Linked DNA regions of Homo sapiens: all the other regions are linked to region 2. Evidence: fine-mapped expression QTL. A gene starts in region 2. Each other region holds a variant in brackets. All regions are shown on one strand. Distances are from middle to middle.

Region 1 (8,101 bases), 33 kb before region 2:
GCCAACCAGCACACACAGTCGGTGCAGAATAAATACTTGTTGCATGTAATTTCAGCACTTTGGGAGACCAAGGCAGGAGGATAACTTGAGGTCAGGAGTTCGAGACCAGCATGGCCAACATGGTGAAACCCTGTCTCTACTAAAAATACAAAAATTAGCCGGGAATGATGGTGCACGCCTGTAGTCCCAGCTCCTTGGGAGGCTGAGGCAGGAGAATCGTTTGAACCCAGGAGGCGGAGGTTGCAGTGAGCTGAGATCACACCACTGCACTCCAGCCTGGGTGACAGATAAAAAAAAAAGAAAAAGAATAATACATGTTGTATGAATGAATTTCATTCTCCCTAAACAGAGCCCCAGATGTATTATTAGTTCCATGGCACTGCCACCCAAGTGTGTCAGAGTTAGGGAAGTCCCTGCACGGCAGTGGCCCTAAAGGAAAAACATTATCAACCTGAGTACACATCTTACACATGGCTAGAACTGGATTTGTGGTGTACATACAATTTGTATCCTAGGATTTTTCCTTTTAACATTATATTGTAAACATTTTCCATGTCCATAAAAGCTTGAACTGTGACAAAAGGCTAGTTGCCTTCATATACAAAGAGCTCTTACAAACCAATAAGAAAGCAATGGGCAAATAAGAAAATGGACAAAGGACAAGAACAAGTATGTATTATTAAAAAAAAAAAAAAAAAGGAAAACAGTCACTAAACATGAAAAATCATGCCTGATCTTGCTCATAATGAAAAAACTTGTCACTAATCAACAAGTGACTACTTTTATTCCCTTTCAGAAGTTTGAGATGTTTACTAAGACTTTTGTGGGGAGCTGGAGTGAAGTCAGGAATAGATGCAATTACACATTCAGTGGGAACAATGATTGGTACAACCTCATTGGAAGCCTAATGGTTAAATCTACCAAAATTTTACTTGCATGTAAACTTTGAACCAGCAATTCCACTTTTAAAATGTTATGCTTTGTATATACTTACAGACATTTTAAAAAAATTATTAAGTACTCACATGTACCATGTTGTTTGTATTTTTAAAAACTGAAACGACCTAAATAGGGTTGTTTCCTTCAATAGGGAACTAGCTAAATAGACTAATTCAAAATAATCAAGGCCATGGGCAGTGGCTCACATGTAATTCCAGCACTGTGGGAAGCCAAGGCAGGTGGATCACCTGAGGTCAGGAGTTCAAGACCAGCCTGGTCAACATGGTGAAACCCTGTCTCCACTAAAGATTTAAAAATTAGTCAGGTGTGGTGGCACATGCCTGTAATCCCAGCTACTCAGGAGGCTGAGGCAGGAGAATTGCTTGAAGCCGGGAGGCAGAGGTTGCATTGAGCTGAGATCGTGCCATTGCACTCCAGCCTGGGTGACACAGTGAGACTCCACTTCAAAAATAATTAATTAATTAATTAAAAATAAAATAAAAGTAAAAATAAATTATCTAGACATGGTGGCCTGTGCCTATATAGTCCCAGCTACTCAGGAAGCTGGGGCAGGAGGATCGTTTGAGCCCAGGATTTCAAGGTTACAGAGAGACACGATTGCACCACTGCATACCAAGCTGGGCAACAGAGCAAGACCCTGTCTCTAAATAAATAATTAATATTTATTAATAAATTAGTTATGGTGCAACCACACCATACTATGAAGTATGAAAAGAAGACATAGGCACTGATACAGAAAGTTTTTCAGGCAACATTAGTAAGTGAAAAAAAAGCAAAATATCAAATGGAATGTATATGTTCTCACGTATTCAACATAAGACACACATGTATGTATGCATGTACACACATATGTGTGTGGGTATATATACATTTTATGTGCATATATGCACCTAAACAGCTTCAGGACATAGAAACACAAAACTATTGTTAGCCTTTAGGGAGAGGAAAAGAATCGTACTTCTTACATCTTCCTTACAGTTTGAATTTTTTTCTACCATGATCATGCATTACTCGTATAATTTAAAATAGCAATAGCAATCGTAATAATTAGTAAATTCATAATAATTGCTAAGTTAGTAAATAGTAAAACCAGAGAAAGAGGCAATGTCAAGGCACCAGAGGTTAATTCCTGATCTAGAAATAAATGAGTTTTTGCCGGGTGCAACGGCTTACGCCTGTAATCCCAGCACTTTGGGAGGCCAAGGCAAGCAGATCACTTGAGCTCAGGAGTTTGAGACCAGCCTGACCAACATGGTGAAACCCCATCTCTGCTAAAAATAGAAAAAATTGGCCGGGTGTGGTGGCAGATGCCTGTAATCCCAGCTACTTGGGAGGCTGAGGCAGAAGAATCACTTGAACCCGGGGGGCGGAGGTTGCAGGGAGCCGAGATCGTGCTACTGCGCTCCAGCCTGGGAGACATAGGGGGACTCCGTCTCAAAAAAGAAAAGAAAAGAAAAGAGAAAAGAAAAGAAACAAATGAGTTCTGCTCTTGGACCAGGATGGAGAGAGAGAAAAGCACTCAGTGGAGGCAGGAGGCGGTGTCGTTCCAAGACCCAGACCCATTCCCAGGGGGGACGGCAGGCAATTCTCCCCAACATGCCCCAGGGCCCCCCATGGAGCAAGAGGACCTGCAGCAGCCTCCTAGGGCTGACTGGCCTGGGCTGTACCACCTACCGTCCATACTGACCGCCTCCAGAGCGGGCCCCAGGGTGCTACGGGGCCCGTGGGCCTCCAGGGAGCTGGGGTCCCTCGGTCCAGCCTGGTTGCGGGCATCCTCCTCACGGACTGGGGCAGGCGTCCAGCGCGGAATGTGCGAGGTACCCTGGGAGATGAGCTCATTCAGGTAATGCTCAATCACCTCCTTCCCCTGGAAGCCAGAGAGACCCAAGACACATGAGCACGGGGCAGGATGGAGGGGGGTCACAGGATCACCACAGGGAGTCACCCCCAGCCGGCTCAGGTCCCAGCCCCGACACGTGGCTATTGAGTGGCTGGATGTGTCTGGTCGGGATGGAGAGAAGCTGCGAGTGTCCAACACCCACCTAATTTCCAAGGCTTGGTACGAAACAAAGAATGCAAAATAGCTCAGTAATCAGTTTTTTGGGTTGGGGGTTGTTTTTGTTTTTGTTTATTTTTTTTGAGACAGTGTCTTGCTGTGTTGCCCAGGCTGGAGTGCAGTAGTGTCATCTCAGCGCACTGCAGCCCCAACCTCCCAGGATCAAGAGATCCTCCTGCCTCAGCCTCCTGAGCAGCTGGGACTATAGGCACACACCACCACACCCACCTAATTTTATTTTATTTTATTTTTTTAGAGATGGAGTCCACTATGTTGCCTAGACTGCTCTGAAATTCCTGGGCTCAACTGGGCCTCCAACCTCGGAGAATTAAGTTTTATATTGATAACACATTGTTTAAAAATTTGTTATTAAAGTTAATTTCATCTGTTTCATCACAAGAACGGGTTTTTACTCAGGGATGGATCTGAGGTCTTTAGAGCAAGCAATGATCATTTTATCTAAAAAAAAAAAAAAAAAAAAAAA[AAG/G]CACCACAGAATTATCTGTTGTCCAGATAATTCACCACATAAGCCTGGACATCTCATGGTGCCAGAGCGAGGATTAGGGTGCCCCTGTTACAGACCAGTTACTTTCCATCCATTATCTCGTGGTGATTTGGTCATTACTAGAGTACCCATTTAACAGATAACACTGAGCCCAGGAAGGGTAAGGGTCTTGCCAGGGGTCATGCAGCTGTTGATGGCAGAGCAGGTGTGTGCACCTTCCTCCAGTAACTAACGCAACCCACCGCTTACCCTCTTGACGTTGGCGGTGTACTGCTTCATGGCGATCTTCTCCAAGGCATTTTCAAAGCCAAAGAAAGACCGAATGTCCAGTGAGGCAGACTGCTCGAAGCAAGTCCAGTCTTCATTCTCAGGGTGGACCTGAAAGCCAGGCAGGGGTCATGCCAGGGACTCAATGTCGGGGGCACCCTGCCCTCCCCTAGGGCTCTCCCACTGACCTGGGCCCAGGCAGAGCCTGCAGTGGAAAGCAGATCAAGCCTGGCAACCCTGGATGGGGTAGCAGGACCAAGGGGCCCCCACCCAGAGAACGATGCAAAGTTCAAACTGTCAGGGAACAAAAAGCCTTCTCATGAGAAGCCGGGAGAATGTGGGTCTCAAATCTGCAGCCCTGCCCTTTCAATATTATACACATACATAGAAAATTAGTTAGAAATACTTATGTTTAGGTCGGGCATGGCGGCTCACGCCTGTAATCCGAGCACTTTGGGAGCCCAAGGTGGGCGAATCATTTGAGGTCAGGACTTGGAGACGAGCCTGGCCAACATGGTGAAACTCCATCTCTACTAAAAATCCAAAAATTAGCCAGAGATGGTGGTGGGTGCCTGTAATCCCAGCTACTCGGGAGGCTGAGGCAGGAGAATCGCTTGAACCTGGGAGGCGGAGGTTGCAGTGAGCCAAGATCATGCCACTGCACTCCAGCCTGGGTAATAGAGCAAGACTCCATCTCCAAAAAAAAAATAATAAAATAAATACAATTGTTCAGTGTATCATTTATATAATCTATAAATAAATTATATATCAATATTACACATAAAATTTAGATATAGATTTTTTAAATAGTTGTATATTATATGTTATCTATATAAAGATATATTACATATCCTTATATATCAATAAACATTTATAGATCTGTATGTTTGCAAAAAGAAAACTTCATTGGCAGAGCTCCTTTATGGATCCAGACCTAGTCCTCCTCAAACGTCTGTGGGCAGAAACATTACCAAGGAGTCTGTTAAAATATGCAGATTCCTGGGCCTGCCCCTAGACACTTCCAGGTTGGGGCCCAGGAATCTGCATTTCGCAAGCAGCCCCAGGTGCTGCTGACTCAGCTATTGATAGAACTCATTCTGAGAAACACCACACACACTAAGAGGGGTTTCAACAACTGTTGCTTGCCCCTCCCCAGAAGATCTGAACACCCTGAGCCCAAGCTCCTGGAGGACCCAAGAGGAGTTGGAGGCGTAGAAAGAAAAGGCAATGGAGCCGGGTACGGTGGCTCATGTCTGTAATCCCAGCACTTTGGAAGGCCAAGGTGGGTGGATCACTTGAAGCCAGGAGTTTGAGAATAGCCTGGCCAACATGGAGAAACCCTATCTCTACTAAAAATACAAAAATCAGCCGGATGTGGTGGCACATGCCTGTAATCCCACCTACACGGGAATCTGAGGCGTGAGAATCTGAGGCAAGAGAATCCTTTTAACAAGGAGGCGGAGGTTGCAGTGAGCCAAGATTATGCCAGTGCACTCCAGCCTGGGCCACAGAGCGAGACTGTCTCTCAAAAAAACAAACAAAAAAAAAAACAAAACAAACAAACAAACAAAAAAAAAAACACGTACAATGGTCTACCATTGCTATCCTGGAGTTATCATCGTGAAAACGATCCAGCAAGGCAGGATCTGCCAATGTCCCGATTTTACAGATACAGACAGTGTGGCCCAACGTCACTCAGCAAGAAAGTGGCAGAGCTGGGTCCCATCAGTGAATGCCTGCAGGTGCCTCATTCCAGCCTCTAAAGTCATCAAGATCTAGGCCCCATGGCCTCACCTTGGCAGACCTCACTCATGCTGTTCCCACCCCCAAAATGCTGTTCCCAGTCCTCCATGAGCAGCTCCTCTCATCCTTCAGCACTCAGCTTCAGTGCCCCTACCACCTTCTCTGACTCCCACACATCTCCCTGCTGGATCCAGCCTTAGCTGTGACAAATGCACACACACTGATTCCGTTTTGTTCCACTGGAATGGACCCTCCGTGAGGGCAGTGGTCAGGCAGCCTGGTCCACTGCTGGGTGCTCATCACTTGGCAGGGTGCCTGGCACATAGTAGGTGCTCAATCAGTATATACTAGAGAATAATTATGATTATTATTAATTATAGTCAAAGGTAACATTTACGTAGAACTTAATATGTGCCAGGCACTGGTCTAAAGGCGCCACATACTACCTGTGTAGTAGGCATGATTATTAAGCCCATTTCACACGTGAGGAAACTGAGGCATAATTTAATGAAAGAAGGAAGGAAAGGAGGGAGGGGAAAGAGGAGGGAGAGGATAGGGTTGTCAGATTTAACAGATAAAACACAGGATGTCCAGTCACGTTTGAATTTCAAATAAACAACAAATAACATTTGAGTATAAGTATATCCCAAGCAATATTTGAGACATACTAAAAAAATTATGGGTTGTTCATCGGAATGCAAAGGCAACCAAGCATCCTGCATCTTTCTTGACAATGCCCCAGGAGGGAGGGCTTGGCAGAGGCTCAAGGAATGTGGGGACACAGCTCTGGGCACAGGTGGGTGCCGGGCGCAGGTGGGTGCCGGGCGTGGGCGCTGAGGGTGGCCTGGGCTCACCGTGTAGCTGCAGTGCTCGTTCACCACCACGCGGTTGGCGAAGGTCTCATTGTGCGCTTCGATGAGGAGCGTCCTCTCCTTCCAGTTCAAGATGTTTGTCTGCACGAAGACCACGTGCTCAACACCTGCGATCTGCAAGGGAAGGGGCGGGGAGGCGGAGGTGGGTGGGCGGCGTGGAGCACACAGGAATGGAGAGCGAGTCCGGCGGGCCTGCCCCAGTCACCCCCTGCCCTGAGTCCCAGGTCCCTTGCGCCACCGCCCACCCAGCCCGGACCCAGGACACCAACCCCCGACTTCCGCCCTGCCGCCAACCCATCTTCACCACCCAGCTCCGGCCCTGGCCCCGCGAACCCCGCCCAGTTCCCGCTACTCCCCAGCCCAGCCTTCCAGCCCTCGCCCCTCCTGGGCCCTGGTCCCGCCACCCTCATCCTGGAACCTCCATCCAAATATCAACTCACACGCCCCTGCTCCACCTCCTGGACCCCGCCGCCCTGGTCCCCAGCTCCCGCGCCCAGCCCTCCCGCACCTCCGCAACAGGTCCCCTCCTCCGCCCCCCAGCCCCAGGGCCGCCCACCTTCCGCAGCAGCCGCGGGGCGTCCACGCGCAGCCGGCAGCTCCGCTCCACCACGTGCACAGCCCCGTCCGGGCTGCGGGACTCGCGCAAGACCTCGCTGCCCAGGAAGACTGGGATCTGTGGGCACGTGGGGAAACGCTTCTCGTAGGCCTGGGGGCAGAGCGGCAGTGAGCGGCCGTGGTGGGGGGGGCAGAGGGACCCCCCCCCCCAGCGCGACCTCCTTATCTGCTGTGTCACTTATCAGACGGGAAAGGCAGCCCTGGCCACTGGAAGGGGCAGGGATTTTGCCGTCATTACCAACAATCGTTCCACCAGCTAGCACCTGTTAGAGCCCAACACAGCAGAGCCTGGACAATGATTTGGCACATAAGTTTTGCCTCTGCATTTGAGTTTTTGCCCTCAGAAGGAAGCACAGGGACTCTGGGGACATTTTAAAATAAGGTATTTCTCAGGAAAAGCATTTGAGAAAAATCCAACACCCCTTCATGATAAAAAAAAAAAAAAAGATTCAATAAACTAGGAATAGAAGGGCACTTCCTCCGCCTGGTAAAGCCATCTGCTAAAAGCCACAGTTAACATCCCTGGTGAATGAGTGCTTTCCCCTAAAATCAGGAACAAGGTAGCAATGTGCATTCTTCGTGTCTATTCGAGCTTGTGCTAGAGGTTCTAGATAAGTAAAAGAAATAAAAGCCATCCAGTTGGAAAGGAAGAAGTAAAACTATCTGTATTTGCAGATGACATGAACATTTATATAGAAAATCCTAAAGCATCCACACACGTACACACAAAAAGATTAGAACTAATCAATGAGTTCAGCAAGGTTGCAGGATATAAAACCAATATAGAAAAATCAGTTGTATTTCTATGTACTAACAATGAGCAAACTGAAAATAAAATGAAAAAATTCTATTTACAACATCAAAAAGAATAAAATACTTAGGAATATATTCAACAAAAAGAAGTGTAAAATGTATACTCTGAACACTACAAAACATTTGCTGAAAAAAATTAAAGCCCTAAATAAATGGAAAGGCATCCCATATTCATGGAACAGAAGACTTAACATTGTTAAGATGGCAATATTCCCCAACTAGTCTACAGATTCAACACAATATCCACATCCCAGTTGACTTCTTTACAGAA
Region 2 (8,101 bases):
AGGCTATATGAATAGGGGCCGGATGCAGTGAGTCACCCCTGTAATCCCAGCACTTTGGGAGGCCGAGGCTAGTGGATCACTTGAGGTCAGCAGTTCGAGACCAGCGTGGCCAACGTGATGAAACCCCGTCTATACTGAAAATACAAAAATTACCTGGGCATGGTGGTGTGCATCTGTAATCTCAGCTACTCAGGGGGCTGAGGCACGAGAATGGCTTGAACCTGGGAGGCAGAGGTTGCAGTGAGCCAAGATGGCACCACTGCACTCCAGTCTGGGCAACAGAGTGAGACTCAGTCTGGAAAAAGTAAAAGAAAATGGGGCTCAGAAAAGTTCAGCAACTTTGTTGTTGTTGTTGTTGCTGTTGTTGTTGTTGAGACGGAGTCTCGCTCTGTCACCCATGCTGGAGTGTTGCGGCGCAATCTCGGCTCTCTGCAACGTCTGCCTCCTGGGTTCAAGAGATTCTCCTGCTTCAGCCTCCCGAGTAGATGGGACTACAGGTGCGCGCCACCACGCCCGGCTAATTTTTCTTGTATTTTTAGTTGAGTTGGGGTTTCACCGTGTTACACGGGATTGTCTTGATCTCCTGACCTTGTGATCCACCCACCTCGGCCTCCCAAAGCGCTGGGATTACAGGTGTGAGCCACTGCACCCGGCTTAAGTTCAGCAACTTTCTAAAAACATACAACCAGAGCATGGCAGAGCACAGCAGAACCCTAAAGCATCTGAATTCACGTCCCTGGATCTCTTCACCATCCCCTGGTGTTCCACTCCCATTACGCAGAAGCAAAGTCACTCAGGCACTTGCAAAAACAGTAACGATCATAGCTGGATCTCAGTGAGCATTTGATCTGCGTCAGCCCCGTACCAGGAGCTTTATACACATTGACTCATTTAATCCACAGCATGACACCAGGATTTGGAAGCCAGGAGATTCCCATTGGTGATGGGGAGTGGAGGCTCATGGAGGTGAAGTGACTTGCCCCACAGTCACTCAGCTCGTCAATTGGGGAGCTAGAATATGACCCTAAGCCAGTTCCTGCCTCTTTGCTGTCCTAGAACCATCTGCCTGTAACAGCACAAGGTATGTGGATGATTTTGGTGATGCTTTTAAATCCTCTGTGTGACAATAAACATATACGCATGTAGATTCATAGAATAAGACAGGACTGGACACACAGGCACACACAGCCACCAAGAGATATGAAAGTCCCTGGATAGAAGGCTGGGGTTAAGCAGTCAGTGCTGGGGTGGGACAGATGGGGGTGGATGCTAATGTTTCTTACACTTTCAATACATTAATTTACAAGACTTCGGTGTAATAACAGCGACAGCATATTTTGTGAGCTCCTACTGTGTGCCCGGCACACAGCAAGGAGCACCAAGAACTATCTCATTTACTCCTCCCCGCAACCTTGTAGCATTGTCCCCATGTTACTGAGCAGGGAAGTGAAGTGCTCAGAGGCAGAGGGATGCAGCCAAGAAGGAATTCCACATCCACCTATGTCCAGCTTCTGCCCCCAGGGTGAAAAGACCAGTGATCCTGGGGGCCAAGGATCTGGCAGCCAATTCTAGGCCTCCAACTGACTTGCTGCACAACACAGAGTACATCACAAAGCAAACCTACCCACTCATTCTCTCTCTCGTCCCAGTGTCAGCTTCCTTAAAGGGGAGGGAAGGGGGTCTGTGAGCAGAAGGAGGGCTCTGTGGTCAAATGTGAGGTTCTAGAGTCTCCTTTGTGGGGATCTCAGCCCCGACTCCACCTCTGCGTAGATACAGAACTTAGTGTCATCCCTTCACCTGTCAAAGCCTCAGTTTCATGGAGGTTACATGGGAAAATAACAGCTATCGGGAATTGGAAGAAACATCATCTGTTAAGACAGTGCTGTAAACATTCAATAAACAGCTGTTGTCATTATCACCACCATTCCATTTATCACTGTGATATGCCATTATATGAAATGACAGCAGTGGCTTGGCCCCTGATACCTTTGTTTTCTATCAGGAGAGTCTAAAGTAAGGGAGCAGGTCAGCTTCAACAAGGAGAAGGAAGAAAGACTTTGTGTTTTGGTCACTGGGCCGAGGATAGGATGGTTGGACAGAGAGGTCACTGGATAGAAGTTAAACCCACCAGGTCAGCTGAGTAACTCACTAATTCCTTCTGATCTGGGAGTCTAAGGAGCTCCGTCTTCCTACCGCCATAGCTGATCTCAAGCCCCTCCAACTGTCACATGGGGGCCCAAGAATCAGGAGTCACTCACCGCCATGACCAGCTCAAACGGGTACTTGTAGACTCGGACAGGAGACTGGTATCTTTGCACCATGTTCACGCTGGAGCACCAATGGAGGTCACCAGGCAGGGGTGTGCACAGAGCCTGGGGCGAGGAGTGACTGGTGAGGTTGCAGCTCCCACCTCGGGAAGCAGGGACACCACCCACCAAGTGTAAGGGGCAGCCCCTGGCCCCACCCACACAGCTCCCCAGCCTTCAAATTGAGAAGGCTGATATTCCCCCCAAATTACTCCAGGCCAAGCCCCAACAGCTTCCCTGTCATTAGCCATGGCCCCAGACCACGCTCAGCCTTCCAAGAGCAGTCAGCACCCCCAAACTTTCCTCTACCCCCACCCCTTCACACTGAGGGCCCCCAGAAGCCTTACGGCCACCCACACAGACACACACACATTTGCAATTCTTACACTCCCACGGTTCTATTCACGCATGCACCCCGCAGCTTGCCACAGACTTGCTGGCCTACAGCCCACCCCCGAGTCTCCTTGCACCTGCCCTCCCATTTTCCTCCCAGACACCCTGACATACACACACAGCCTTCACCACATTTCACAGGCACTGTCTCTATCACACACATGTACACACGCAGGTTTCCCTCCCACACGGGACTGCTTTTGCACACGCCTCCAACTTTGCACACACACCCTGAAACACGCACCTGCCCAGCTCCACGCACGCAATTCCCCTGGTGTGCACAGACGTGCACACACGCACACACACCCGTGCGCACATGCACACACACGTACACACACGTAGAGGCAATCGCACACGCATGCACACACAGGTCCCCGCAGCTTTGCTCACCCTCGCCCTCGGGAGCCTTTGGGAATGCAGCCTAGGGGAAGTGCCCTGGAAGCCCGCCTGGCTCGGGAGCTGAGCGCTTACCCGCGCCCGCCTGGCCTGGAGCGCAGTACCTGAGGCGGGGCCCGATCGCGGATCTCTAGCCTGGTGTGTCCCGCCTTGAACACCCTGCGGCCAGGACAGCTGTGGAAGGCCGGAGGGGCGGGAGCGAAACCTGCCGGGCCGAGAGAGCTCCAGGACCCGGGACAGCGGAGATCCTGGCCTGGCCCCGCCCCTGACCTGGTCCCGCCCACGTCCCCGGCCATGGCCCCGCCCAGGTTGGCCCTGCCCCCTAACTGGTCCCGCCCCACTCTGGCCCCGCCCCAGGCGAACTCCCCCTGGTTCTAGCCCCGCCCCTTATTTTTAGATGTCGCTTGTTTGACCACGCCCTCAGCCCAGTCCTTTCTCTAGATTGGTCACACCTCAGGAAGTCCCCTCCCCCTTCACTGGCCCCGCCCTCCAAGGCCCTCAGCCTCGGGGAATGGTAGGCCACAGGACGACCCCGCCCTAATCTAGCTCTGCCTCCAAGCAGACCCTGAGTCCGGGCCGACCCGCCCCGGACCCTGCGTCTGGCCGACAGTACTGTTTACATTTGTAGATAAGCAGAATTTACGCTTTTCTTGCTCAGATTAACCTCGCCCTCGTCCCGCTGCACTTGGGTCTGACTGGCTCCTCCACCTGTCCCCGCCCCACGGCCCGCGCATGCACCTTCGCCCACTCTGCACACCTTCACAGAGCGCCTGCTGGGGGTCAGCCCTGTCCAGGCGCTGGAGAGCCGCCGGTGAGCCACACGCACGAATCCCTGCCCTCGTGGAGTTTATACTACGGTGGGGAGACAGACACTCAATAAATAAGGCAAATATATGATGTGTGAGGTAGTGAAAAACTCTAACGAGAGAAAAATAAGCAGGAAAGGGGCTCAAGGAGCCAGCGGAGAGAAAGGACAATTTAAAACAGGTAAGAGGCCGGGCGCCATGTCTCACGCCTGTAATCCAAACACTTTAGGAGGCGGAAGCGGGAGGACCGCTTGAACCCAGGAGTTGGAGACCACCCTGGGTAACATAGCAAGAACCTATCTCTACAAAAAAATTTTTTTTTAGTTTAGGCAGGGCGCGGTGGCTCACGCCTGTAATCCCAGCACACTGAGAGGCCAAGGCAGGCAGATCAGCTGAGGTCAGGAGTTCGAGAACAGCATGGCCAATATGAGGAAACCCCGTCTCTACTAAAATACAAAATTAGCCGGGCATGGTGGCGTATACCTGTAATCTCAGCTACTCGGGAGGCTGAGGCAGGAGAATCGCTTGAATCAAGGAGGCGGAGGTTGCAGTGAGCCGAGACTGCGCCACTGCACTCCAGCCTGGGCAAGAAGAACAAAGCTCCGTCGCAAAAAAAAAAAAAAAAAATTAGCCAGGCGTGTTGGCACGTGCCTGTGGTCCCAGCTACTCAAGAGGCTGAGGCAGGAGGATCCCTTGAGCCCAGAAGTTCAAAGCTGCAGTGAGCTGTTACCTGGCCACTGCACTCCAGCCTGGGCAACAAAGCAAGACTCGGTCTCAAAATAAATAAGTAAATAAATAAATAAAACAGGGAGTAAGGGGGCCTCCCTTGGGAGAGTGACATTTGTCCATCACTCTCATTTTAACTCACACTTAACCCCTTTCAGCCCTCCCAGGACTCCCAGGGGACCAACCTTGCTCCCAGAAGTCCTGCCTTGCCACTCCTCATCTGTTTAGCCTACAAGACCCAAGAAATTGGCTCTGGACAGTGCTGTCATCCATGTATTCACTCATTCAACATTTACTGAGCACCTACTACGTGCCACCGTGGGGTGAATTCACCCCTTCAAGCAGGGGAAGTCAGAGGTGGCCAGGGAGATGGACAACCCCTGATATATTTCAAGTATGTCACTGCACCCTGTGAAAATCACCTCTCTTCCCTTCCTAGCCTGCATCACATTCTAATATTGCATTTATTCGTTTTATATATCTGTGGGTTCCTGGAGGTCTCTCTCAGGAGACTGTGAGCTCCCTGAGGGCAGGGGCAGTGGCTGCCTTATTCAGCTGCCCGCATGTTGGGAAGGATCTTACTGGGGACCTGGCAGGCAGGCAGCAGGTGCCCAGCAGACTCTTGGCTTAGGTAATCAAGGGCGGAAATGGGACACAAAGTTCCCATCCCTGTCGCAAGGTGGCAGCAAATGATAGCCCATGGCTCCTGGAGTAACACAAGGGTGAGTAGGTGGGGGACATGGGATCCAGGGATGACTGTCCTAACCCGGGCTCATCCAGGAAATGCCCAGCTCTGCCCAGGCATCGCCACAGAGCAAAGTGAACGTTAACACCGTTAGCTGCTGTTACCACCACGAAAGGCGTTAAGTCCGCCTCTCCTGCTGCCCAACATTGAGGGAGGACAATGACTGCGTGGGAGACAGAGGTGTGACAGCCCTGCGGGTACAGAGAGCTCAAAGTGGAAACTGGGGCCTGGAGGGGAGTGAGAACCCCACTCCCTCCTCCTCCAGCCCCAGGGAAGGGAATTAATAACGCCACCAACACTCACTCCAGCTTTTTTTGGGTTTTGGGGTTTTTTTTTTACGTGGAGTCTTGCTCTGTTGCCCAGGCTGGAGTGCAGTGGCGCAGTCTCGGCTCACTACAACCTCCGCCTCCCAGGTTCAAGCAATTCTCCTGCCTCAGCCTCCCGAGTAGCTGGGATTACAGGCGCTTGCCACCACACCTGGCTAATTTTTGTATTTTCAGTAGAGACAGGTTTCATCATGTTGGCCAGGCTGGCCTCAAACTCCTGACCTCAGGTGATCCACCCGCCTCAGCCACCCAAAGTGCTGGGATTACAGACATGAGCCACCACACCTGGCCCAGTTGCCTATTATTACTGTTCTACTAATTATTCCTACCACTTGTTGACACTCCATTGGCGCTTACTATACCTAGCACCATTCTAAAGCTTTACAAACACGAATGCATTTAATCCTCAAAGCAACCCCAGAGCAATGAAAATGTCTTGGAATGTGATAGAGGTGGTGGTTGCACAACGTTGCAAATGCACATGCCACTGAATTGGGGCCACAATATTAAAATGATTAATTTTCTGTTACGTGGCTTTCATCTCAATTAAAAGCCCATATACAGTCAAAACTATTTTAATCCTCATCTTACACGTAGGGAAACTAAGGCACAAGGCACAGAGAGACTGAATAACTTGCCCAAGGCCACACAGCTAGTAAGGAACTCATACCCAGGACTCTCGTTCTCCAATGACTTCTTCTCCTAGAGCTGCAGCTGATGCTCCGGGAAGATGTGATTTCCAAGCCCTGAACTGCAAGATCTCCAGGCACCCTGGCTCCAGGACAAGAAGGCGCTGCAAGGATAGGCTGATTCCCCAGGGGTGCTGGGCATGAACTCAGTCCCAGGGCAGGATCTTTAGCCTCTATCTGCTGCTTCCCACCTGCCCTGCAAGAATGACCCAGCCAATGCTGCCTTTTGTGGAGGTGGGTTTTGGGAACCCCAGAAACCACCTCATGTCTCTGAATGTCTTCCCAGCAGATGGGCCACTGCCAGAGAAGATTCAACCATTAGTGATGCATTTGTTTGAGTAAAACTCTGGACCCCATCCAAAGGCAGATGTTCCTGGAAGGCATCCTGCTGGGAATGTCCTGAGTTGAATGGCTCAGTGTGACATTGAGAATGGGGGTTAAGACCCTGGAATACATAATGGGCCCTGGGATGGCTCTGAAGCTGAAGAAGATGCAGTAAGCAGGGTACGGTCCCCAGCTTAATTTTATTGTGGCAAAATGGTCCGAGCACAGTGGCTCATGCCGGTAATCCCAACAGTTTGGGAGGCCGAGGTGGGCGGATCACCTGAGGTCAGGAGTTCGAGACCAGCCTGGACAACATGGCAAAAACCTGTCTCTACTAAAAATGAAAAAATTAGCCAGGCATGGTAGCGCATGCCTGTAATCCCAGCTACTCAGGAGGCTGAGGTAGGAGAATCACTTGAACCTGGGAGGTGGAGGGTGCAGTGAGCTGAGATCACACAACTGCACTCCAGCCTGGGCAACAGAGTGAGACTCCATCTCAAAAAAAAAAAAAAAAAAGAAAAAAATCAGCTGGGCACGATGGCTCATGCCTGTAATCCCAGCACTTTGGGAGACCGAGGTGGGCAGATCACCTGAGGTTGGGAGTTCGAGGCCAGCCTGATCAACATGAACAAACCTCGTCTCTACTAAAAATACAAAATTAGCTGGGTGTGGTGATGCATGCCTGAAATCCCAGCTACTGGGGAGGCTGAGGCAGGAGGATCGCTTGAACCCGGGAGGCAGAGGTTGCGGTGAGTCAAGATCATGCCATTGCACTCCAGCCTGGGCAACAAGAGAGAAACTCCATCTCAAAAAAAAAAAAAGCACATAACACAAAAGTTACCATTTTAACCATTTCTTAGTGTGCTGCATGCCTGTAATCCCAGCTACTCAGGAGGCTGAGGCAGGAGAATTGCTTGAACCCAGCAGGTGGAGGTTGCAGTGAGCCAAGATCATGTCATTGCACTCCAGCCTGGGTGACAGAGCGAGACTCTATCTCAAAAAAAAAAAATGCACATAACACAAAAGTTACCATTTTAACCATTTCTTAGTGTACAATTCTCTGGCTTTTGGTATATTCACAAGATGCACGTACAGCCAGCACCACTTTCTAGTTTTGGAACATTTTCATCACCCCAAAAGGAAACTCATACCCATGAAGCTGTCACTCCTCCTTCCTCCCTTCCCGCAGCCCCTGGAAACCATCCATCTGTTTATCTGCTTCCTGGGGGACATCTCATTCGTCCCGGGTGGCCTCTACGTTGTGTTGCTTCTTGCCCCTTCTCGAAGCAGAGCCCTGAGGCCTCCTGGATTTGGGAATCTCCAGGGCTATCATGATGGTTGGCAGGGCTGTTACGTACAGGTGTATAGGTTGTAACCTGCACAACTCTGT
Region 3 (8,101 bases), 61 kb before region 2:
GCCACTTCTGCCTCCTGCTCCACGTCCTATCTAAGGTCTGCCGTCCAAAATCTAAATGCCTGAGCCCCAAAATGTGCCTCTCCTGTAACAGTACAAGTGTCACACGTTTTGGGTTGCCGGAGACCCCAAAACCCAGGAGCCCTGGCTGTGAGCCTCTAGCGTGTTGCTATCAGGGTAGTACCTCTCCCCCATTCTCCATCCAGGTGGTTTGGGTGGCACTGTCTTCTCACCCCAAGTTGCAGGTGGGCCTGAGAGATTGGTCCAGAGTTAGGCACCTGCCCCGGGTCAGCCCGTCAGAGCCCATCGTGGAACTTCTGCTGCAGCTGGAAGAAGAAACTCTCTCTGCTGGGACTGTCTAACTTCCAAGGTTAGACACAAGGAGGGCCACAAGGTGGGCCAAGGTGGGCCACAAGGAGGAGGAACGGAAACCAACTCTTCTCCAGTGTGGAGAAGACCTGATCAGAACCAAGAGATGGAGCGGGTGAGCCAGTGTGGAAAACGACTAGACTGAGGGTGTTGGGGTGGGGGTGGGGGGACATGATTTGAATGCCTGGATCCAGCTATACCTGAAGCCAGCCAGATCATTCTTGGACTTCCGAATTACATGAACCCATAAATTCCCATTTTTTGCTTGAGGCAATTTGTATTGGGTTTTGGGGTCTCCGGCAACCCAAACGTGTGACACTTGTATTGTTACAGGAGAGGCACATTTTGGGACTCAGGCATTTAGATTTTGGACGGCAGACCTTAGATAGGACATGGAGCAGGAGGCAGAAGTGTCTGAGATTCCAGTACCAACCTATGGTGCTGGTGGGGACACAAATATACAAGAGCTAAAGTCATCAAACTGCAGGCAAGCCGGCTGGGGATTCATGTGCTCCGATCCCAGCAGCATAAGGGTCCCCTCCCCCACCCACAGTAGTGACTCAAGACCCCCAGGCACAGGCACGGTGGTCTTGGACTGCACACTGAAGTCTCTGCAGCTCAACTGGGAACCCTGAGAGTTCCACATGCTGGGCCATCGCCATGGTGACACGTCTCAGCTTCTGGGGTGCTCTGCACAGAACTTTAGTATTCGGAAAGACCCCAGAAAGGTTCCCATCCTGGCGTCAATGGGTGGGCTTTCAAGGACTCTTTGGGGCCCCAAAACAAATGAAATTCGTGTGTGTGTCCTGAGTTCTCATGGGATTCTCCAAGCAGTCTGTGTCCGGAAAAAAAAAAAAATCCTGGCTTAGAGGTTTCAAATTGTGCTTTTTGCCAGCTTGGGCAACATGGCCCCGCCGCTACAAAAAAATACAAGAATTAGGCATGGTGGCGCACACCTGTGGTTCCAGCTACTTGGGGCTGAGGTGGGAGGGTCGCTTGAGCCCGGCAGGTTGAGGCTACAGTGAACCATGATCATGCCACCGCACTCCAGCCTGGGTGACAGAGTGAGACCCTGTCTCAAAAAAAAATGTGACTTTTGGGGATCCGCATTCCTCCAAAATGCCTTGTTGGGGGCTGGGCACTAAGGGAGGCAGGGAAGTGAGAGGGAGAAGTTGGTAGCCACAGCCTCTGACATCCCTGGAGGCCCTGGGCTCCCTTCCTCCCAGGCCCTACCCCAGCTCCCACTGCAGCTGCTTGCGTCCAACCTGGCTCCGCAGAGGTCCCAGGGGTCTGTGCCCCAAGAACTGATCCCAGAGGCAGCCTCTGGGCCACAGGGAGCCCTGGGCATGTTTTGCTCGCTCTGGGTCCAGGCCCCAGGAGGCCTCCAAGGAAAGCGCTGTGGCTGAGACAGGCATCAGCAGGGCCCCACAGCTCAGGCCTGATCCCAGCTCCCGCCCACCCTCCGGAGCTCCATCTTCCCCCACAGGGCTGTTCTTTCTCGATACCCGCCGCACCCACGAGTCAGCTGGCTGTTCCTTTGAAACCCGCCACCCACAGTTCCAGAGAAATCCACGGAAGAGTCACCGCCCATGAACACACGCAAGTGCAAGCCGCCTCCTCTCCCCTGACGAGCTGTGCTGGGCAGGGCTGGGGAGCAGAAGCTGGGTGGACAGATGGCCCTCGTGCCATCACACAAAACACCACACCTGCTCTGCTCTCACAAATGACAACCCCAGCCACCAGCTCCAAAACGACGAAGGCTTTTCAGAGTCCCAGGATCTGTGTGGCAGCCAGCTCCACTCTCCGTGCCCCAAGAGAGCTCACGGGAAGGACAGGTGGCACCCTGGACAGGGTTCATCACAACCTTCTGACGTCAGGACTGTGGCTGTTTTGGGATGCAGCTCTCCAGGACACCAGGTCTGGCACTTTGGTAAAACCCCAGGGGGAGGGCAGGGCAGCCCAGGAGAGATGGGCACCAGGGATTTTCATATCTGTTTAATGCAGATATAACTGTGTATCTGGTTAGCTATTGTATGCATACATAATAAGTTGAGTAGCATGCCCCAAAATTCATGTCCATCCGGAACCTTAAAATGTGACCTCGCTTGGAAGTAAGATCTTTGCAGGTGGAATTAGTTAAGGATCTCAAGACGTTATACTGGACTTAGGATGGGTCCTAAATCCAATGACTGGCATCCCTACAAGAAGAGGAGACACAGAGAGAGAGGAAGGCCATATGATGATGGAGGCAGAGACTGGAGTGATGCAACCACAAGCCACGAGGTGCCACTAGACACTGGAAGAGGCAAGGAAGGGTCCTCCCCTACAGCCTTCAGAAGGAGCAGGGCCCTACCTCCATGGTGATTCCGGACTTCCAGCCTCCAGAACATTCCTGTTGTTGTTGTTGCTGTTGTTGTTGTTTTGAGACGGAGTCTCACTCTGTCACCCAGGCTGGAGTGCAGTGACATAATCTTGGCTCACTGCAAGCTCCGCCTCCCGGGTTCACGGCATTCTCCTGCCTCAGCCTCCCGAGTAGCTAGGACTACAGGCGCCCGCCACCATGCCCGGCTAATTTTTTGTATTTTTTAGTAGAGACGGGGTTTCACCATGTTAGCCAGATGGTCTCAATCTCCTGACCTTGTGATCCACCCGCCTCGGCCTCCCAAAGTGCTGGGATTACAGGCGTGAGCCACTGCGCCTGGCCTATTTCTGCTTTATATATAAAAATTGTGATCCTCCCTCACACGGCCCAATAACCAATCTTGAGAACCTTAACTAATTACACCTGCAAAAACCTTATTTCCAAATGAGGTCACATTCTAAGGTTCTAGGTGGACATGAATTTGGGGACATGCTATCCAATCCATTACATATGTATACAATATATATGATACACAATTATACCTGCATTAAACAGATATGCAGCCCCTTGGGGGTGATATCACTCCGGTTGCAAATGCTCTAAAGCAAGGGTGTCCAATCTTTTGGCTTCCCTGGACCACATTGGAACAAGAAGAATTGTCTTGGGCCACACATAAAATACACTAATGATAGCTGATGAGCTGAAAAAACAAAGAAAACACACACACAAAAAACCTCAGTATTTTAAGAAAGTTTACGAACTCGTGTTGGAGCACATTCAAAGCAGTCCGGGGCCGCGTGCAGCCTGCAGGCCACAGGCTGAACAAGCTAGCTCTAAAGTCTTTTAAACAACAGCTGGAAAGTTCTTGAACGAGCCCACGGGAAACCTCCAGGGTTTTAGGAAGCTGACGATGCAAGTTTATCCAAATGGAAAACATTTAATGCTGCTGGTTGGAGCAAGTGATCAGGCAAACAAAAAAACCCATCGTGTTTCACTGGCTCAAAGAGACTTTGTTGAAAACAATTATACTATTCTCATTGGACAATAAATTTTACAGCAGGGAGGGGGAATTCCAGAGAGTGCAGGGTAGAAAAAAAGAGTCTCAAACTCTCCATACTTCAACCTCTGGGAAAAAACATTTTC[T/C]AACTGCCAAGGGAAATACCACTCAGAATACACTCCCTCAGATGGGTGGACTTACCCAGAAAACACAAGCAGCTTCTTTCTTCTTTTTTTGAGACAGGGTCTTGCTTTGTCACCCAGGATGAAGTACAGGGGTGAGATCATGGCTCACTCCAGCCTTGACCTCCAAGCAATCCTTCTGCCTCAGCCTCCCGAGCAGCTGAGACTATAGGCACGCACCACCACGCCTGGCTCATTTTTTAATTTTTTGTAGAGACAGGGTCTCACTATGTTGCCCAGGCTGGTCTTGAACTCCTGCACTCAAGCGATCAGCCGGCCTCAGCCTCCCAAAGTGTTGGGATTATAGGCATGAGCCACCACGCCCCGCCCACACAAGCAGTTTCTAAAAGAGAAAGACTGCACACCCAACTCAGAGGGCAATAATTCTTGACACCTACTTTTCTCTGGGTGCAATAACGAAAAACAGGGATAGGCGACCTCAGGAAGAAAACGAGTCTTTGGATGCGAAGCATTAAGTAATCAGAATGACCACTGACATTAATGGAGCGCTTTCTGTGTTCTGGGAGCTGTGCTGAAAGCTTTACAGCTACTCCCTCATTTCGTCCCACTACAACCTATTGAGGTAGGCACTGCTATCCTCACTTTACAGATGAGGAAACTGAGGCACAGAGAGGTTAAGTCACCTGGTCAAGGTTACACAGCTAGTGAAAGGAAGGCTGGGGTTTGAGTCCTGGCCTAAATTCAAGGCCCAGGTGCCCAAACACCAACAGTAATGCTGCTTGTGGGTTGCTTCTGTCCTGGTCACAATGGATTAATGAACTAATGATGCAAGAAGCCCAAGCCAAGGCACTTCCAGCCTTTGTGGCTCAGGGGAAATTCAAAAGCCAAAAGCTTGGCAATCCCTTCCTTGGATTATTTTTAATTCCAGTCCTCCCGAAGGCAAGAAGAATGACCTTGATAATGCTTCCACGTGGGTCCCCGAGACCTCCACATGGGAGGAGAGCCGGCCGTAGCAGATGCCACCATGGATACCTGCTGGTTCTGTGGTCCAGCTTCTCTTGTCCATTGGGGGAATGGCCCTCCCCAATCCTGCTGCGGCTTCTGCAGGGAATGTCAATCACGGGACCCTAGTTCCTTGCCAGTGTGGCCCACAGGAATAAGCATGTGACTCGAGCTGGGCCAATCAGAGCCTTCCATGAGATTTGAGATGGAAAAGCATCTCTTAGAGTGTGAATCCTGAAATTATAGGCTTGGGGCTGCTGGCAGCCATCTTTCCCGCCAGGTGGAAGAAAGAATGAGGTCAGCATGCAAAGAGATGCAGAGTCAAGAGGCCTGGGTGCAGTTGAGAGGCCTGAGGACATTAAGCTCCTGGATCCAGCCATATCTGAAGCAGCACCCACCTTCAGCCATCCCTAGTACAGGACCCAGGGAATTTGCTTTGTTGCTTAAGCCAGTTTGGGCTGGTTTTCCCTAGGGAGAGAGCACTCTCAAGAGCAGAACTGAAAGGGCCTGAGGTTCCTCACCCCCACTGTTAAGGGTGGACAGCTGATAGCAGACTCCCCTCCCCCCACCCGCCTCTGGAACAGGCAGTTCCAGCTTCCTTCCGTAAAAGGCTTCTGTGTCCTTCTCTGGGGCTAGACAATAAATGTATAAAGACTGCCAGGGCAGCTTATCCCAGCATACTTGTAGGATAACACCTAGTTTTTAAGAGAAAAGCTAGAAATTCACTTAAAGATAGTTGAAAATATTGCAAGTTGCTCTCAGCAATAAATGCCTGGTGATATGGGAGCAATTAGTTTTGAGAACGTCTCCTTCCAATCAGTCGGTCTCTTATGCACACATGTGCACACACACCTTGACGCAGAGTGCAAAGCAATCTATTTTGTTCAGATACCTGAGAAGCGGACAGAGAGCCAACAGGAAGGTGGGCAAGGCTCTCTCCCAGCAGGAAGAAGGATGTATCTGAAAAGATGACACTTTCTCTCTTCCTTGGGTTTGGGGTTGAGGCTGGCGTAGATATAAGTTTCCTGGCCCTGCATTGCTGAGCCTGCATAAAGATGATTCTTGTGGCCACAAAACCACCCCTTGGCTCAGTTACTGCAGCAGAGATGAGCCCCAACTCTAAGCAAGGCCAGGAGACAAGGGTACCAGCCACTGCTGACAGAGCCATGTCAGTGAGACTCCTGCCACGCAGGTCATGAGGATGTGTAATGTGGGCTGGGCGCAAGTCAATGGGGTAGGGACTGGCGTGGCCACATCCAGGGGTGCAGAGGTGTTGTCTTCATGCAACAATAGTGACCCCATTCTGCTGGTGCTCCCAAATGCCTAAGGGAAGCCAGAAATCCTGATTTCGATGCGAAATGCCTCAATTTTTAAACCATTCTAAAGGCAAAAAAGCAACACTAAAAGCAGGCCAGATCAGGCTTCAAGTTGGTGACCCCTGACTGGCTGCCTTTTGGGGAGTCCAGGAAAGGAAAGGAGAAATGTCCTCAGGCCCCAAGGAGACCCAAGACGCTCCTGTGTAGTAACTAGGGGAACTCATGTCAATATTGAACCTAGTTCCAGAGTCATATCTGCCCCAGGGCAAACACAGCAGCCTCCACTCGCGGGGGGAATCGAGACTCCATGTTGAGACCCTGGATCTAGCCTTACCTGAAGCAAGCCCTCCTGGACTGGCCAGTTCTATGCACCCATGAATGATCATGCTTTTGTGTTGAAGCACCTGGGCATGGGTCTCTGTGGCTTACAACCAAAAACAGTCATAATTAAACAGTTCCCTAGGAGAGAAAGGCATCTCCAGTGGGGTATACAGACAGCCTCAGTCACCCCATCACTGCCTGGAACTTAGCAGAAACCCAGGGCTCTCCCACCCTCTCCAATCAGGGATGGTCAGGCTTAGGCCATGCTGGCCAAGTGCAGGGAACATGGATTTTCACTTCAGGATGTGCTGTTCCCCACAAAGAGCAGCGCCTGTAACTCACTTAACTGCTCACCAAGCACATCTTGATACTGCATAACAGAACGTTATGCAATCAGATGCCAAGGTAAACACCCTTCATTTCTGCCTCCCCAGCATCCTTCCTCCTTCTTCTTAGGGGGGACCCCAGTACTCCTCGAGGCACCCACTAGTGCTTTTGAGAGCAGGTGGTTGGTTCCAGAGATGTGCATGTGATCCAGGCTGGCCAATCACTGCACCTCACTGCAACCCTGGATCACGGTGATTGGTCCAGATTGGGCATGACCCTGCTGGCCAATCAGCATTCTCCAGTGTGCCTGGCAACTGTGATTGGTTCAGGAATTGACCTGGCAATCGCTCCCCCTTCCAGGCTAAGACTCAGCTCTGGGAAGTGGGCTGGAGCCTTTGGGAGGAAGAGGCTCTCTTATGCAGGCAAGCTGCAGGGAGGAGAAGGGCACCTGATAGTGATGGTCCCCTGCATGGCGAAAGCAGAGCAAGAGGTGGACAGAGAGGAGATGGGCCTGGCTGACGTCGCTAAGCCCGGATGTCCCAAAGGTGTGGTATGGTAGACACCTTGGCCTTGGCTTGGTCTTCCTTACACGAAGCCGGAAGGAGATGGTTCTGTCCTTGCAATTTCAAGAGCCCTGACACCACCCACAGGCCAGTTCTGGATCCTTGCCATCCGCTCCAGACACCCCAACTTGGGCAGCATCTAGGCCTGGGGCTCCAGCCCACATGGTCCCAGGCCCTGCAGTTAGCTGGCTTCTCATTCTGGACATTTCTGGACACTGGAGGCGAGCGGGCGGCCCTGAAACACTGGGCCCGGCTATCTGGAGACCAGGGAGCTGCTATGAGACTGGCCGGAGGAGGAGGACGAGGTGGCGGCGCTGAGCTGGGAGAAGCCGCTGGTGCAGGATTCCAGGCTGGACATGGAGCCCCTGGGGAGGAAGGGCGTGGCACACGTTACCCTCTCACAGTGACAAGGCCCTTGGGCTGACACACAGCAGTGGAAAAGCTGTTGATGCTGCAAATCAGGCCCCAGGGCCCCAGGCCGATGCAAAGGGAAAAGCAAGTGACGCCATGAAGAGAAAAGCACTACCGAATTCCCCACACTCCCATCTCCCCAGATGGAGCCCAGCCTGCCACAGACCCATCAGGGGCTCCCCTGGCCTGAGGCCCTTGCATGGCCCTAAGGCCGCCACAGCCCAGGGAGTCCCCGGCCCTGTCTCCAGTCTCACTCCCTCCTTACTCTTTGCACTCAAATTCCATGGTCCTCC
Region 4 (8,101 bases), 22 kb after region 2:
CTGTAATCCCAGCACTTTGGGAGGCTGAGGCAGGCAGATCACAAGGTCAGGAGTTCAAGACCAGCTTGGCCAACATGGCAAAACTCTGTCTCTACTAAAAATACAAAAATTAGCAGGGCGTGGTGGCAGCAGGAGAGTTGCTTGAATCCAGGAGGCAGAGGTTGCAGTGAGCCGAGAGTGTGTCATTGCACTCCAGCCTGGGCGACAAGAGCCAGACTGTCAAAAAAAAAATAATAATTAATTAATTTAAAAAAAATTAGCCAGGCATGGTGGTGCACACCTGTGGTCCCAGCTACTTGAGAGGGAGGCTGAGAAGAGACAACGGCTTCCGTCTGGGAGGTCAAGGAAGGCTGCAGTGAGCCATGATCACGCCACTGCACTCCAGCCGGAGCAACACAGCAAGACCCTATCTCCAAAAAAAAAGAAAGAAAAAGAAAAGTTAACGTGTTTTTGTTTTTGTTTTTGTTTTTTGACGAAGTCTCACTCTGTCGCCCAGGCTGGAGTGCAGTGGCACGATCTCAGCTCACTGTGACCTCCCAGGCTGGAGTGCAGTGGCGTGATATGAGCTCACTGCAACCTCCCCTTCCCAGTTTCAAGAGATTCTCCTGCCTCAGCTTCCCAAGTAGCTGGGACTACAGGCAGGCGCCACCACGCCCAGCTAATTTTTTATTTTTAGGAGAGACGGGGTTTCACCATGTTGGTCAGGCTGGTCTTGAACTCCTGACCTCAGGTGATCCCCCTGCCTCGACCTCTCAAAGTACTGGGATTACAGGAGTGAGCCACCGCGCCCATCCAAGTTAACATTTTTAATATGTGTCCCCTGCCCCGGGACCTGAAAGCTCCCAAAGAGAAAGCCCCTTTTGTGTTGTTCTTTTCCCTTTTCTCATCCGTGTACAACAAGCAGAGCCAGGCACACTGAGGCTGTGAGAGTGATGGGAAACATGTGTTGAATGAGTAAATGACTCCACTGAGCAATACATCCTCCCCCAGAAAAATGCACATTTGGACACACACATTTTGAAAGCAACTTTAGGGCTGGGTGCAGTGGCTCACACCTGAAATCCCAGCACTTTGGGAGGCCAAGGTGGGAGGACTGCTTGAGCCCAGGAATTCAAGACCAGCTTGGGCAACACAGCGAGACCCCATCTCTACAAAAAACATATATAAATATAAAGGTTTTAAAAATTAGCCAGGCGTGGTGGTGGACACCTGTGGATCCAGCTACTCGGGAAGCTGAGGTGGGAGGATTGCTTGAGCCCCAAAAGTCAAGGCTGCAGTGAGCTATGATTGTGCCAATGCACTCCAGCCTGGGCAACTGAGTCTCAAAGAAGAAAGAAGAAAGAAAGCAAGAAAGCAAGAAAGGAAAGAGAGAGGAAGGAAAGAAGGAAGGCAGGCAGGCAGGCACAACTTTAGGAGGAATCACACCTCTATTTACGCCTAGTGGTCCATTATTGGAACGTGACGCCTGTGGGAGTTATCTCCTACTGCTCAAGGTCACTGCCAAGGTATGATTTATCAATTCAAAAAATTGCAACCTCAGGCATAAATGGGTTAAGCCCACCCATAGAAGCCCCATTAAGAATAAGGTTGGCTGGGCACGGTGGCTAATATCTGTAATCCCAGCACTTTGGGAGGCTGTAGGCCGGCAGATCACTTGAGCACAGGAGTTCAAGACCAGCCTGGGCAACATGGTGAAACTCTGCCTCTACAAAAATTTTTAAAAATTAGCCAGGTGTGGTGGTGTGTGCCATCCGGGCTTCAGGTCAGATTAGGTTTCTGTCTAAGGGCAGCCTCCTCCACTGGCACACAGTCTGGGCCAGGACATGCTGGCAGAATTGTGCAACGTCGTTGTTCTGAGCCGCAATCGAGCAGCTTTTATGACCAGCTATGAAGCGCTCTTCTAGTGCCAGGGCCTGGAGTTATTGAAGTTTCAAAGGAGTTTTTGTCCACCCGAGATGGCAAGCGGAGAGCAGATTCAGGCCAGGGCACTGCGCTCAGCGCTTTGCGTGCATTACCTGCAGGGACATCCCCACAGGCCTTTCGGATGGGGTGGTGGTTATCACCGTTTGACAAAGAAGTAAACTGTGGCTGGGAGCAGTAAAACACCTTGCCCAGGAGTGTCAGCCAACCTGGGGGTGGCAGGGCTTGAACTCAGGCCGGCGCCCTCGGCAGTTCAGCCCCCTTCCCTCAATTGCCACCATCTGAGTGCAATTCGCTAGCTACTAGGGCACATGAATCCGTGCGGGTCTCTGCCGCACCTGTCTTGCGGGGCCCAGCTGGGTGTCCGCCAAAGCACCAGGAGCGCCGAGTTCCGCGGTAGCGCAGAACCAGGTGAAGGCCTCGGCCAGAGGCGCGCCGGGCCCGAGGAGGGTGGGGCTGCGAGCGCTCGCCCCGGCGGCCTTTGCGCCCCAGTGCCTGCCCGGCCTCCGGAGTCCCCCGGCTGGGGGTGGGCGGCGTCCGGCCAAGACCCAGTGTCCCCACCCCCGCGTCCAAGCCCCGCCCGCGCGGTGGCCCCTCCTCGGGAAGGTAAGCACCACCTTCTCGGGGAGCGGCCCGCAGAGCCAGTGGCCGGCGGGCGCCCCGCCCCCAGCGAGTAGGGACCCGGAGCCACTGCCGCGCCGCAGTCCGGGCTCCCCGCGCCGCCGCTCGCTCACCTGCGCTCCCGCCCGCCCCTCGGTGCGCGCCCGGCCCGCCAGCCGCCGCCGCCCGCACCCCGAGCGCCACCATGAACTCGCTCTTCAGGAAGAGAAACAAAGGCAAATACAGCCCCACTGTGCAGACCCGGAGGTGAGGAGGCGCCCACAGCTCCGCTCCGGGACGCTCTTGCCCCTGTGGGCGCACAGGACCTGGAAGACCTCCCGGGCAGTGTAGGAATGGGGGGTACGGGGGTCCAGGAACCGGGAACTGAACCCGGAGTGCGGGACTCTCGGGAACGCGGGACCGAGGCCACCCTGAAGCTGGGAAGCGCCGCCAGGTGGGAAGGGACTGGCTGGGGTCCCCGAGGGGGAGCATAACACAGGGGACTCCGGGAGCCCAGGGAGCATTGCC[T/A]TGAGGGCCTAGGGCACGGGCAGCTGAGCTGGGGGTACAGGGCACCCCCGTGTCCCAGGGTCGCTCTTGCGCAGAGGGTCGCACAGGACCGGGAATAGTCACCTGGATGAGGGGGCGGAGTTTTTGGAGGACCGGGCACTCAAGGCGGGGTCGCTGCGGGCGACCCAGGAAGCTCCGTCCAGGGGGCGCCCTGAGGCAGGGAAACTGAGCTGGCGTCGGGGGGCGCTCTCCAGCGCCTCTGAGACCGCGCAAGTGTTCCTGGCGTCGGGGAGGCGAGGGATGGGTGTCCGGAGGGGGCGGGCCACCCGCCGCTGCACTTCCCGGCACCTGCCACCCTGCGCGCCAGAGCCGCGCCCGGAGGCCCTGGGGGGTGTGGGGTCGGGTCGAGGGGCACAGGGGGAGGCACCCCCTTACCTCCCCACCCTCTGGGTTCTGAGCGGAGGTTGGGCGGCTTCGGGGCCTCCTCTTCGAAGCTCGGTTTCGCAGGGGTGTGGCTCCCTGCCCCCACCCCAGCCCCGAAACTGGCGGCGTCTCTGAGCCGCGGGTTCCCAGGGCGGCCTGGGAGGGGAATGGCATGTCTTGATGTGTTTGCAGGGAGAAGCAGCCCACGTCCCTTTTGATAAGCCTAATGTGTTCACTTAATAACCGGTTTAGGGGAGCCTGGTGGAGATGCTGAGATTGACGGAGGGGGTGGGAATCCAGCCCCTGCCTTATATCCCCACTTCGGAAAATAGAGTGGGGGCTCTGGGCTAGCAAGGACCATTTTGCCAGCTTCTCGGACAAGAGGCTTCAGGCAGGTGAGGGGCCCGCACATTACATGGCTCTCCTGTCTGGGAGTTCTGCCCCCAAGCTGCTCTCACTGGGAGCCCCCACTGTGCCCTCAAGCAGCTCCTCACTTCTTCCCTAGGCAAGGAGAGGCCTCTGGGCCCAGGGCTCCCACTCAACCCCTGCAGTCCGGCCTAGGCCGACCAGTCGGACAGGTGCAGGCGGCGGGGCCCTAGCACGCTGGAGTGCGACACTCCATTCCGGGGCCTTCCAGCCCTTTCAGAAACCCCCCTGCCCTGTGATCCCACCCACCCGTATCTCCGTTTGGGCTCTTTCAAGCTCAGAGGCATTACCCGCCTTTAGAGATTTCCCCACCCCTCCCCTATCTTTCACAACCCCAGAGACTGGGCAGGGCCTGCACACCCCTCCTCCATGGCTGCGTCCAGCTGGCACTCAGACCCAACCAGAGGCCCGTCCAGTCCCTGCACTGTTCCCTGGGGCATTGCACAATTGGATGCTCCGTGCCAGCCGTGGAGAACCGTTCTGTCCTCTCCACCCCAGAGACTAGACCCATCCAGTCCTTCACACATGCAGACACCCACATACCAGTGGTGGGGCCAGGCCTCGCCCCGCCCTCTGCCTCCTCCCAGCCTCCCTCCTTCGTGCAGCTCTCCATCCTGAAGGCCCCAGCTTGGACCTAACAAAAGGTTCTAATGAACCCAGACAAGCTGGGAGGGGTGCGGGCTTTCCCAGAAGCATGAGGATGAAAGGCATCCCATCCTTTATAGCTGCAGGGACTGGGAGGGTCTGGGGTGGCAAAGATTTGGGGTCCTGCCACTCTCTGTATATCTGGCCCAAGGCAGCCACGGTCTGTCCTAGGCTGATAGCCATTGGTCCCAGATCTCCATTTAGACGTCTCTTTCTCCAGGAAGCCCTCCTGATTCTCTCCCCAGCCTGGGGTGCAAGACCATTCCTTTGAGCCTTGCCACCCCAGCACAGAATGAGCACAGCCACAGCCCTGAGCAGATGTCAGATGCCTCCCCGGGTGGTCTCCAAGCCCAGTGCATCCCTCTGCCCCCTCCCCTTAGTGGGGACTAGTTCGCAGACTGGATTGTGGGGTGGGGGTAGCCCTGTACCCCATCCTCTCAAACGCATCTCTTGAACATTGCCTGATGCCCAGCCAGCCCCATAGCAAGTGTCTTGGTGGGGGGGTGGAGGGGACAGACTTGCGGCTCTAGGCTGTGGTCGCTGGTCACAGGGAGTGGATCCCCAAGTTATTCCTTCACTCTGAGTTTTCCAGGGGCCCGCTCCATTGTCTGGGGGAGGACAAAATTGCTGGTGAGATTCAGCATGGGGGGCAGTAGGAGCTCCAGCACTGAGAGCAGAATGCCTCACTGTTGATCCTGGCATCTCCACCCTGGAGCCTCTCGAAGCCTTGTTTTCCCTTTCTGCACAGCACGGGTGGTAATACTGAGTGTCTCATGCATAGGGCTGCTGGGAGGAGCAGTGCTGTAGCACACAGGAGGTGCCCGGATGAGGGTAGCAGCCCTTTCCGAGCCCAGGGGACCCAGGAGCCCCAAGTGGTGACTTTCATACCCAAGGTAGTCAGGCCTTTGGACTACAAAGTGTGGATTAGTGAACGGAACACCCCACCGAGAAAGCCACCCCTTCCAGTTTGTCTGCCTTTTAGCAGCTGAAGCTGGGGAGGGCCGGGACAGGGTGTGAACCCCGTTGCTCCCGTTGCCCGGGTTCCTAATGACAGGTGTGGGAGTTGATGTTCACACCTGAGCTAATGACAGAGTCAGGCCAGATGGTGCAGGTGACCGAGGACAGCCTCCAGCCTAGTAGAGAGGCCCTGGAGGAGACCCGCTGCCACCCTCCTGGCTGTGCGACCTCAGAGGAGCTGCTTGGCTTCTCTGAGCCTGTTTTCTCACCTGTGGGATGGGAATAAGCACGGTGCCTGCCTGGCGATGTTGGCTCAGGATTAAATGAAATAATGCAGGGGAAAGGTTGTGAATGATAAGCGGCCGCAGGTAATAGCATCTGTGACGATTACAGTTATTAAGCAAATGCGGGCAAGCTAGCTGTGGTGTACCCAGGGTTAAACTTGATATCATGGTGGACAGGCTGTGCACTGCACAATTCCATAGGCACTGTTGCTGGGTTTTAGCACGTGGTCGTGGAGGAGACGTGGACAACCTCCCTGCACTTGAGTCGCTGGCAGTCACATCACAGAGATAAGATGGAGTTAAGCTTCAGTACATGTATGGTTACATGAGCGTCGGACTGATGGGGCCAGGCAGGAGCAATGGAGCATAGAGCCGGACAGATGAGGTCTCCACCCTGGCCACTCACATACTTTGTGACAGGCCTCAAGTGAGAGTTGTCACAGTCAGAGCACAGATGCTGGGAGGTGAGGGAGGACTTCACAGAGGAGGCATCTGACCTGTCACGGGGTGGGATGGAGTGGCCAAGACCCAGCTCTGCAGTCAGGCTCAATTCTGCCTCTGCTTGAAAAGAAACATAGCATCCCTGAGCCCCAGCGCTTCTGAATTTGTTGAATGGGATTAATCTTGCCCCTCCACCCAGACCTGGGTCCCAGTAAACACCCAGCAGCCTGGCCTTGCCTAGACGGGTCTTGCAACACTGGGGCCGCCCTGATGGAGCGCTCCTGCATGGGAGGCAGGACCCCAGGCTTTGAGGGGAGAGCTGGCAAAAGGGAAGCATGCTCTACTGGGAGGCACCTGGGGTACCCTGAGCCTCTTAGTGGTTAAGAACACAGTGTTTTATTAGCTGGGCATGGGGGTGGGTGCCTGTAGTCCCAGCTACTCAGGAGGCTGAAGCAGGAGAATCCCTTGAACCTGGGAGGCAGAGGTTGCAGTGAGCTGAGATTGTGCTACTGCACTCCAGCCTGGGTAAAAGAGTGAGACTCTGTCTCAAAAAGAAAAAAAAAAAAGCAAGAACACAGTGTTTGATGCTAGCTGGGCATGAGTTCAGGCCGCAGCTCTGGGTCTCTTAAGCTGTTTGATCTTGGGCAAGTCACTTAATGTCTCCGAGCCTCAGTTTCTTCATCTATGAGGTGGGGTGACAACAGCAACCCCCAGTTGGTGAGGCTGCTGGGTAGATCAAATGAGGGGATGCACATGATGGGTCCAGCCCATGACCTGGTTCAGAGCGAGTGCCCGGCAAATCATAGCAGCCAATACTAGGAAGCACACACTGCTATTAAGAGTCATGACGGGCTGGGCGCGGTAGCTCACGCCTGTAATCCCAGCACTCTGAGAGGGTAAGGCGGACGGATCACTTGAGGTCAGGAGTTCAAGACCAGCCTGGCCAACATGGTGAAATCCCATCTCTACAAAAATAAATATTAAAAATTAGCTGGGTGTGGTGGCGGAAACCTGTAATCCCAGCCAGATACTGGGGAGGCTGAGGCAGGAGAATCACTTGAACCTGGGAGGCAGAGATTGCAGTGAGCCGAGATCACACCACTGCACTCCAGCCTGGGAGACAGAGCGAGACTCCGTCTCAAAAAAAAAAAAAAAAGATTCATGACTGAGCCAAGCCCAGAGCTGACCAGGGAGCTGACTCAAGCAGACACGCACATGCACCCATCGATCAGTGTTGGTAGGAACGCCTGATCGATATGGGAGGGGACCCATGTGGGTAACAGCTTAGAGAGAGCCGCCCCGCCATTTCTCAGGCACATACTGTGAGCCCAGCAAGGCCATGGATGTTACATCTCATTCTGACAGCGGGCCTGCCATGCAGGTGGAAGTGTCCTGTTTCACAGAGGGCTCACATTCACCTTGAGCTCACAGCTCACAAATGGCTGATGCTGGAAGTCCAGGGGGGCCTGGGGAAGCAAATGAGGCCTCCCCACTCGTACCTGGATCTGGCAGCAACTGTGCCTGGGGACTGCTCCAGGCCAAATGGTAGAGTCATTGGTGTTTGTGCTCACTGCCTCTACCCCCAGCAACCCCCTCTACCTCTCTTCTCTCTAGCTTTGCCCCTCCATCCCTTGCCCAGTTCTCTTGGAAGAAGGAATGAGACTGGATAAATTCGATTCAGGACAGAGCTGAGCTTACCTGGAGGAACAGCTGCTAATGGTAGCATTTCAGGCACTGTCGGGCGGATCATGTTGGGAAAGGGTATTTTGGGGGAGAGACTCAGCTCCGTCCACACCCTTTAAGCAATACCCTAAGGGTGTGGTTGGGGGAGGCCCTGGAAGTAGGGGACCTGGGGGAGAAGCTGCTTTAGAGAGCTTCCAAAGCTCCTCGTCTGGGGA

Which allele goes with the higher level. Positions count from the first base shown, and alleles are read on the strand shown. Sizes are in standard deviations (SD) of each study's normalised expression. Not every link is listed here.
As copies of AAG replace G in region 1, the expression in iPS cells of the gene that starts at base 3,315 in region 2 goes down (large effect, 0.84 SD a copy in HipSci).

Evidence for each region. PIP is the estimated chance that this variant, and not a neighbour inherited with it, causes the effect. A credible set is the group of variants that fine-mapping cannot tell apart.
Region 1: its variant is the best candidate, but not a certain one, in a credible set for the expression of SEC14L5 in iPS cells (HipSci, PIP 0.90).
Region 3: its variant is the best candidate, but not a certain one, in a credible set for the expression of SEC14L5 in whole blood (INTERVAL, PIP 0.61).
Region 4: its variant is the best candidate, but not a certain one, in a credible set for the expression of SEC14L5 in sun-exposed skin (GTEx, PIP 0.86).

What each region holds. Positions count from the first base shown.
Region 1 is chr16:4,986,564-4,994,664 of GRCh38, reverse strand. It overlaps SEC14L5 (SEC14 like lipid binding 5), which reads right to left. Exons shown (of 16, transcript NM_014692.2): 3 at 6,959-7,108; 4 at 6,385-6,516; 5 at 3,770-3,898; 6 at 2,635-2,827. Among named protein-coding and RNA genes, the nearest start is that of SEC14L5, 32 kb to the right of the region's middle. The variant AAG/G (reference allele first, on the strand shown) is at 3,501.
Region 2 is chr16:4,953,544-4,961,644 of GRCh38, reverse strand. SEC14L5 (SEC14 like lipid binding 5) reads right to left here and starts at 3,315. Exons shown (of 16, transcript NM_014692.2): 1 at 3,200-3,315; 2 at 2,259-2,372. The coding sequence starts at 2,321. RefSeq lists an enhancer at 2,788-3,323 and silencers at 3,127-3,422, 3,221-3,430.
Region 3 is chr16:5,014,520-5,022,620 of GRCh38, reverse strand. It overlaps SEC14L5 (SEC14 like lipid binding 5), which reads right to left. Exons shown (of 16, transcript NM_014692.2): 16 at 3,464-7,762. The coding sequence ends at 7,651. Among named protein-coding and RNA genes, the nearest start is that of NAGPA-AS1, 15 kb to the left of the region's middle. The variant T/C (reference allele first, on the strand shown) is at 3,872.
Region 4 is chr16:4,931,670-4,939,770 of GRCh38, reverse strand. It overlaps PPL (periplakin), which reads left to right and starts at 2,623. Exons shown (of 22, transcript NM_002705.5): 1 at 2,623-2,787. The coding sequence starts at 2,726. RefSeq lists a silencer at 2,281-2,680. The variant T/A (reference allele first, on the strand shown) is at 3,049.